Regions from separate parts of the Homo sapiens genome. Here region 1 is linked to region 2. The links come from fine-mapping of genetic effects on gene expression. A gene starts in region 2. The other region holds a variant in brackets. All regions are shown on one strand. Distances are from middle to middle. Region 1 overlaps FRK (fyn related Src family tyrosine kinase). Region 2 holds the start of NT5DC1 (5'-nucleotidase domain containing 1).

What was found. PIP is the estimated chance that this variant, and not a neighbour inherited with it, causes the effect.
Region 1: its variant is fine-mapped to the expression of NT5DC1 in whole blood (TOPMed, PIP 0.91).

What each region holds. Positions count from the first base shown.
Region 1 is chr6:116,054,281-116,057,202 of GRCh38, reverse strand. The region is part of intron 1 of FRK (fyn related Src family tyrosine kinase); the gene reads left to right. Among named protein-coding and RNA genes, the nearest start is that of FRK, 5.1 kb to the left of the region's middle. The variant T/G (reference allele first, on the strand shown) is at 1,448.
Region 2 is chr6:116,099,291-116,102,212 of GRCh38, reverse strand. NT5DC1 (5'-nucleotidase domain containing 1) reads right to left here and starts at 1,360. Exons shown (of 12, transcript NM_152729.3): 1 at 1,190-1,360. The coding sequence starts at 1,282. It also overlaps a transcript of FRK not described here. RefSeq lists enhancers at 657-1,177, 1,178-1,700 and a silencer at 1,285-1,544.

The DNA of each region.
Region 1 (2,922 bases), 45 kb after region 2:
CACATGTATGGGATGAGTAGGCAATGGGAAACCAATGAAAGCTGTCATCTAATTCCTAATTAGACCAGTTTAATGCAACGTATGTTAGTATTTGTGTTTTTATGTCTTTACTTTTGATGTGCATCTGTAAGAAGAAACTGCAAATACTTCTGGAGTTATTGGTGCCAGGGAAAATTAGTTTAAGGCTTTAGTTTGCAGTTTGTTTGTTTTCTTTTATACTTGGAAGTAGAGATGTTGAAAAACAAACTATTGTTTAAAAAGCCCAATTTACTAATTCTTATCCCACTTAGAAATGCTTTTCACCTTTACTGAATATCTTCCACTAAGTGATATAATAAACCAATTCTTGAAGATTTATTTTGTCTTTATGAAGAATCATTAGATTTATCTTATCTTCGACTTGAATTTATTCCTAGCTCATTTTAGAGATGAGTCTTTTTCTTCAACATCTTCAATGTGAAATCCCTCGAAAACCTTGCCCTTAGGGTCTTATTAATCAGAACTTTCTTTAATATTTTATTTATGGTGTTTTTAAAGATATAAAGTTCACATAAAAATAATGATGTGGAAATAACATATAAATATTAGAACCAAAAGTAATGGCTTTAAATTTCATTGCTTTAATTGTAAAAAATTCAAGTATTGCAAAATATTGATAAAAAGCAATATGATCAGCAATAATATTAGACGTAGCATCATTTATCTGCAAAGAGTTTAAAAAGTTTTTTTGCTTAGGGAGGATCACCTGTGTCCAGGAGTTCAAGAACAGGCTGAGCAACATAGTGAGACCCAGTCTCTACAAAAAAATTAAAAAATTTGCTAGGCATGGTGGCACAAACCTGTAGTCCCAGCTACTCGAGAGAGTGAGGCTGGGGCAGGAAGACTGCTTAAACCTGGGAGGTTGAGGCTGCAGCAAGCTATGGTTGTGCCACTGCACTCCAGGCTGGGTGACAGAGCCAGACCCTATCTCGAATCCCCACCAACCAAAAAAAAAAAAAAAAACCAAATGAACAATTTTTTGCTTAATTGTTAAAGTGTACCTTAGGTGTTGTCTAACATACTTTTGTGTTAAATTGAACTAGGGTCAGAGATGAGATCAGTTTAATCTCCCAGAAAGGGGATTGGTAGGAGGGGAATGGGGTGGACATAATCACATAAGCCAGCCACTGATGATTTCTGCTTCGCCAACTTGACCACGCAAGCCAAGGGCAGCAGTTGAGATAGCTGATTTGACTCCCCTTTGCATGTTAAGTTTAAGTTATGATAACAACAATGAAATGTGCTGCTGAACTTCTGACTCCATACACTTCTCAAAGACATAAATGAAGATTCTATTAAGAAAATTAGATCACTACAATCATCTCTAAAGTTTATTGTTTATTAAGCTCCACATTTTTCTAGGTCATATTCTTGTGTATCTTCTTACTTGTGAATCAGTAATTTTGTC[T/G]TAAGTCCATTCTATAGGCCTGGTATGGTGCTAAGTGAATGACTCAGCAAAGGCAGAGGAATTAGTATTTGCTTTGTTATATATATATAATTTGGCTTTATGTTAAGAAATATTTCCACACTTATGTGTGAAACAATAAAGGCCATAAAGTTTATTTCTGTCTCCTAAATTTGAGCATGGCATACCTTTGTGGGTAGGAGGGCTAGAGGAGCCACCCATACTGACCTACGATGGTGTCTTTGTATCTCTTGTTAGCACTTTAGCAGGGGAAGAAGCAAAGTACTGGATTTTGTAGAAAGTTTTTCTTCTCCTCTTATTACTGTGAAAGGTAGATAATTTCCAATTCCTCATCTATTCATCATTTCAGTGGCTTCCTTGAAAAAGAAAGCAAGAATAAATATTTGTAACTTGTAGTTTTGTTGGTAGTTTATGATTATGGTATAAAAATGTTAGAATGTTCTGAAGTATAAAAGTAATGGGATTTTTCTCCATGTATTTAGGCCATATTTTCCTGCTTGTGCTGCTCTTTAGTGTGTCAGACTAGAGTTCTTTGAAGATTTTATCTAACCTATGATGATTGCCATTGTCGAGCTTGAAAGCAGCATGGTGAAACAAAGTGGTATATTCTTGGAAAGATTCTTATATCACCTATATCACCGTTTTAAAATAGAGTGAGGCTTTGCTATTTTGTCATTTGAATGCTGTGGAATTTAATAATTATTGAATACAAATTGTACATAGTGTGCCTAATCATTTTCAACTTAAATGTCAGCAGATTTTTTTCTTAGCTGGGATATGAGACCAGCTTTTGCATCTTAATTATAGGTATAGAAACAATGTGGTTTAAAAATTAACATTACCCTTAATACATTTTAAAAGTCATCAGAATATTCATAATCCACTCTGACATAATAGATGTTATCTACTTTGAGAAGTTTGAATTATTAAAAGTCACCAGTGTGCGATCAGTTCCACAATTGTTCTTTATCTAGATCATTTATTTTGTTCCCTTTGTGTAAGTTGTCAGGGAAGACTAAATGCCCATGTGTCAAAATGAAAATAATACCTAGTAATAAATGCCTGAAAATAATGCCTGGCATTTCTGGGTTCTCTCCTCTAAGACAAAGTATACTTACTATAATTTTAGAAATGAAATAAAAAGGTATTTATATATATAAATAACACTATATTTATAAAATATAGTATTATACTATATTATACTATATAATATATAATATATAGTATAATATTATAATAGTATAATATACTATTATATATTATATATATTATATTATATATAATATAGTATAAATAATATATAATATACTATATAAATAATACTATATTTATAAAAAATACACTATAAATATACATATGGTTGTTTATCAAGTGTTTTGGATTAATCAAGATAAAAATTTTAGCACAAATCATTTAAGTCAACCAAAAGCATATTTAAATGCCATGAGATTAATTAG
Region 2 (2,922 bases):
ATAATGGGGCACAACCCTGGCTGATGTCTGCACCAGTGATCTAGAGTTCTACCCATAAACTGTGAGGTTTCCAAATAGTTTGGGTGGTAACCATAAAAGCAAACACTTGTCTTTGCCAAGGTACTATTCTAAGCATTATACATCTCTTACTCATTTAATCCTTGCAACAATCTTGTGAGGTAAATCCAATTATTAGCTCCATTTTACAGATGGGGAAACTGAGAAGCAGCACAGGTTAAGTAACTTCCTCGAAGTCACAGAGCTAGTAACAGTGGAGCTGGTGTCCTAAGCTAGGCAGTCTGGCTGAGGAGTCCTCGCTTTCACCACTGTACTCATAACCAGCTCTTTTTCTGTCTGGATGCTTAGATCTTGGACTAAAAAAATCTGGTAACTTTTCAAAATTAGTTTCCTTGGGAATTGGGAAACCAAAGGAATAGTGGAGGGAGGGCAATTAATTTGAGTGTACAGGTCTGGAAGCATGCATACTCCATGTCCCCCTCCCTCAGGGCACAGTGAGGACCCAAACTTCGCAGACTGTTGGTAGGACTGGAATGTATTCAAAGTGCACGGAGCACGTAGTCGATGCGCAATAAATATGTATTTTCTTCTCTTGATAGAAGGTAAAACTAGGGCTAAGATCTTAATGACTTTTCAACTAGTGTTCCTTTCAATACACTACACTATATACTACGCATCTCTCCCAGATTGCAGTTTAAACACTGATGGGTGGTTGATCGTGCAAACAGAAAAATGCAGCCAAAAAAAATGCAAGTACCAAATCAAGTGGCTGTGTCCACAATCAGCTGGTGTCCAGAAAGACATGCAGAGAAAGTTCCACGACGTGAGATCTTCAAGGACAGCCCTAGTCCCCCTGACCCCGCCCCTCCTCGGCCCTAGAAATCACCGATTCCCCAGCCCGGTCTTGCGCAGTTTGCCCCTCCTTCGTTCTTCCCTATCCCTCTCAACATTAGCTAATGGCTGAGGTAAATGTGCCGGTCCCCACGGCACCGGCGCGGAGCGGAGGCTGCACACTTCCGCCCCTTCTCGCCGCTGGAGGCCGCGCTCTGCGGCAAGACTCGGCCGCCGCAGGCCCCGGGCAGCGTCCGCCGTTGCCCAAACCTGGAGGAAACTCAAGCCCCAGCCGCCATGGAGGTTGCGCGCAGTGCGCCCCGGAGCCCGCGCCACTCACCGGGGCGCTCTCGGGCAGGTTGTAGCGACACAGAGTGTGGTCCAGGTCGAATCCGACCACGTCGCAGGCGGCCAGGGAGAAGTGCTGAGCCATGGCTGCGCGGGGAGCACCAGGGAGCGCCTCGGCCGCGAAGGGTGCAAGGAGCTGGCTGGCGGGACGCTGCGGGACAGGACCGGGCCGGACGCGGCGGGGCGGGGCTGCGGCTGCCAGGGCACACGGCGCGGCAGCCTCTCCCGCCTCCCGCGCCCTCGAGCACCGCCCCTCGATACGCTTAGCCCCCGCCCCTCGCGCGGCGGGCGTCCTGCGCCGCCCGGAGTCAGGTAGTCAGCTCGCGTCCTCCTGGTACCCCAATGCCGGCGACTCCTGATCTGTTCCGCAAGCCTAGGAGCCCAGAAGGCAGTAGGGGTCCAGGAGCGGTGCCGCTGCTGCACAGCTGAGACCTGTAGGCACGTAGCCTTTCCCGAGGGCTACCACAAAATTAACCGGGACACTCCATCGCCTCAGGGCGCCTCGGAAACCAGGAGATCATGAGGTTAGACCTGACCTTTTACCCCTGTGTGAGGAATAGTAAGATCATAGAAAAAATTCATCCGCTAATATCCCTCTGACCCAGTTAGCCTACAATTTGGAAGGTCTTTTCACCCACGTGATCTTTGATAGTGGTTTAAACCAAAAACTTTATATTCCTTGGTTTCCTAAGTGGTTAAGTGGAAGACAGACCTTTCACTATTTCATACCCTGGAGTGCGTTAGAAAATAAATGTATCAGACATCGTGAAGAACCATTTTGCAAGATGATACTTGTTATGGAAACCAATATTGGTTATTACTTGATAATCCTATTTTGTTATTGTAATGAATTTTTTATGAAAGGGCATCAGAAACTTCATAGAAATATATAGAGCATACTACAAAAAACTTTTGCAAACCGGGTTTAAGGTTTATAGAGCACAAAATGTTTTGAGTGACATTTGCTTAATTCTCTCAAGAACTGTATAACTACTACCATTTTAGATGCAGAGAAAGTTAATCCATTACATACAATGTATGCCTTAGGGCATTTAATTCTCTTCCTGATTTCCGGATGTGAAGGACTAGCACTTTGAGATCTTTATTACATAGTACCTCATTTTAAAAAGAAAATACAAATCTATTATGTTTACACTGCTTCAGTTCTCAATTTAAAGGAACAATGTGTCTAATGGGACAAATCAATAGTCGTGACATAATGAAAATATAATTGATTGAGAACTGCATTTAACCCTTTCAAATACTAATCCTTCTGAGGCTAATAGACCAATCAGAGGATTAATTTAGTGCAATAGATAGTACAATTGAGTAGGAGGACACTTATACCTAGTAGACCCATTTGAATAAAATTGATAACTTGTTCCATTATAACACTTAAAAGCCCCAAACAAATCTCTCTGGAATAGGAAAAGTAAAGAATCTTCAAGAAGATTAAGCTGTTCACTGATGAGTCCAACAATCATGTTTTCAATGTCTGTGAACCAAAAGAGAAAAGGCTGGATTGTTGGAGAGGCTGGAAAAAGCTTGTTGGCCCTGGAGCATTGACCTTGGCATTCTCCTCTGCACCTTGCAATAGAATGCTACCAAAGTCAAACTTCCAGGTGCATGCCACATTGAAGGGCACATGTTTCCTTGGGGAATATCTTGTTTCATGTGGGAGTAGGTGCTTTAGGTACTTTAGGGACTTCCCTTAGTAATACAAAT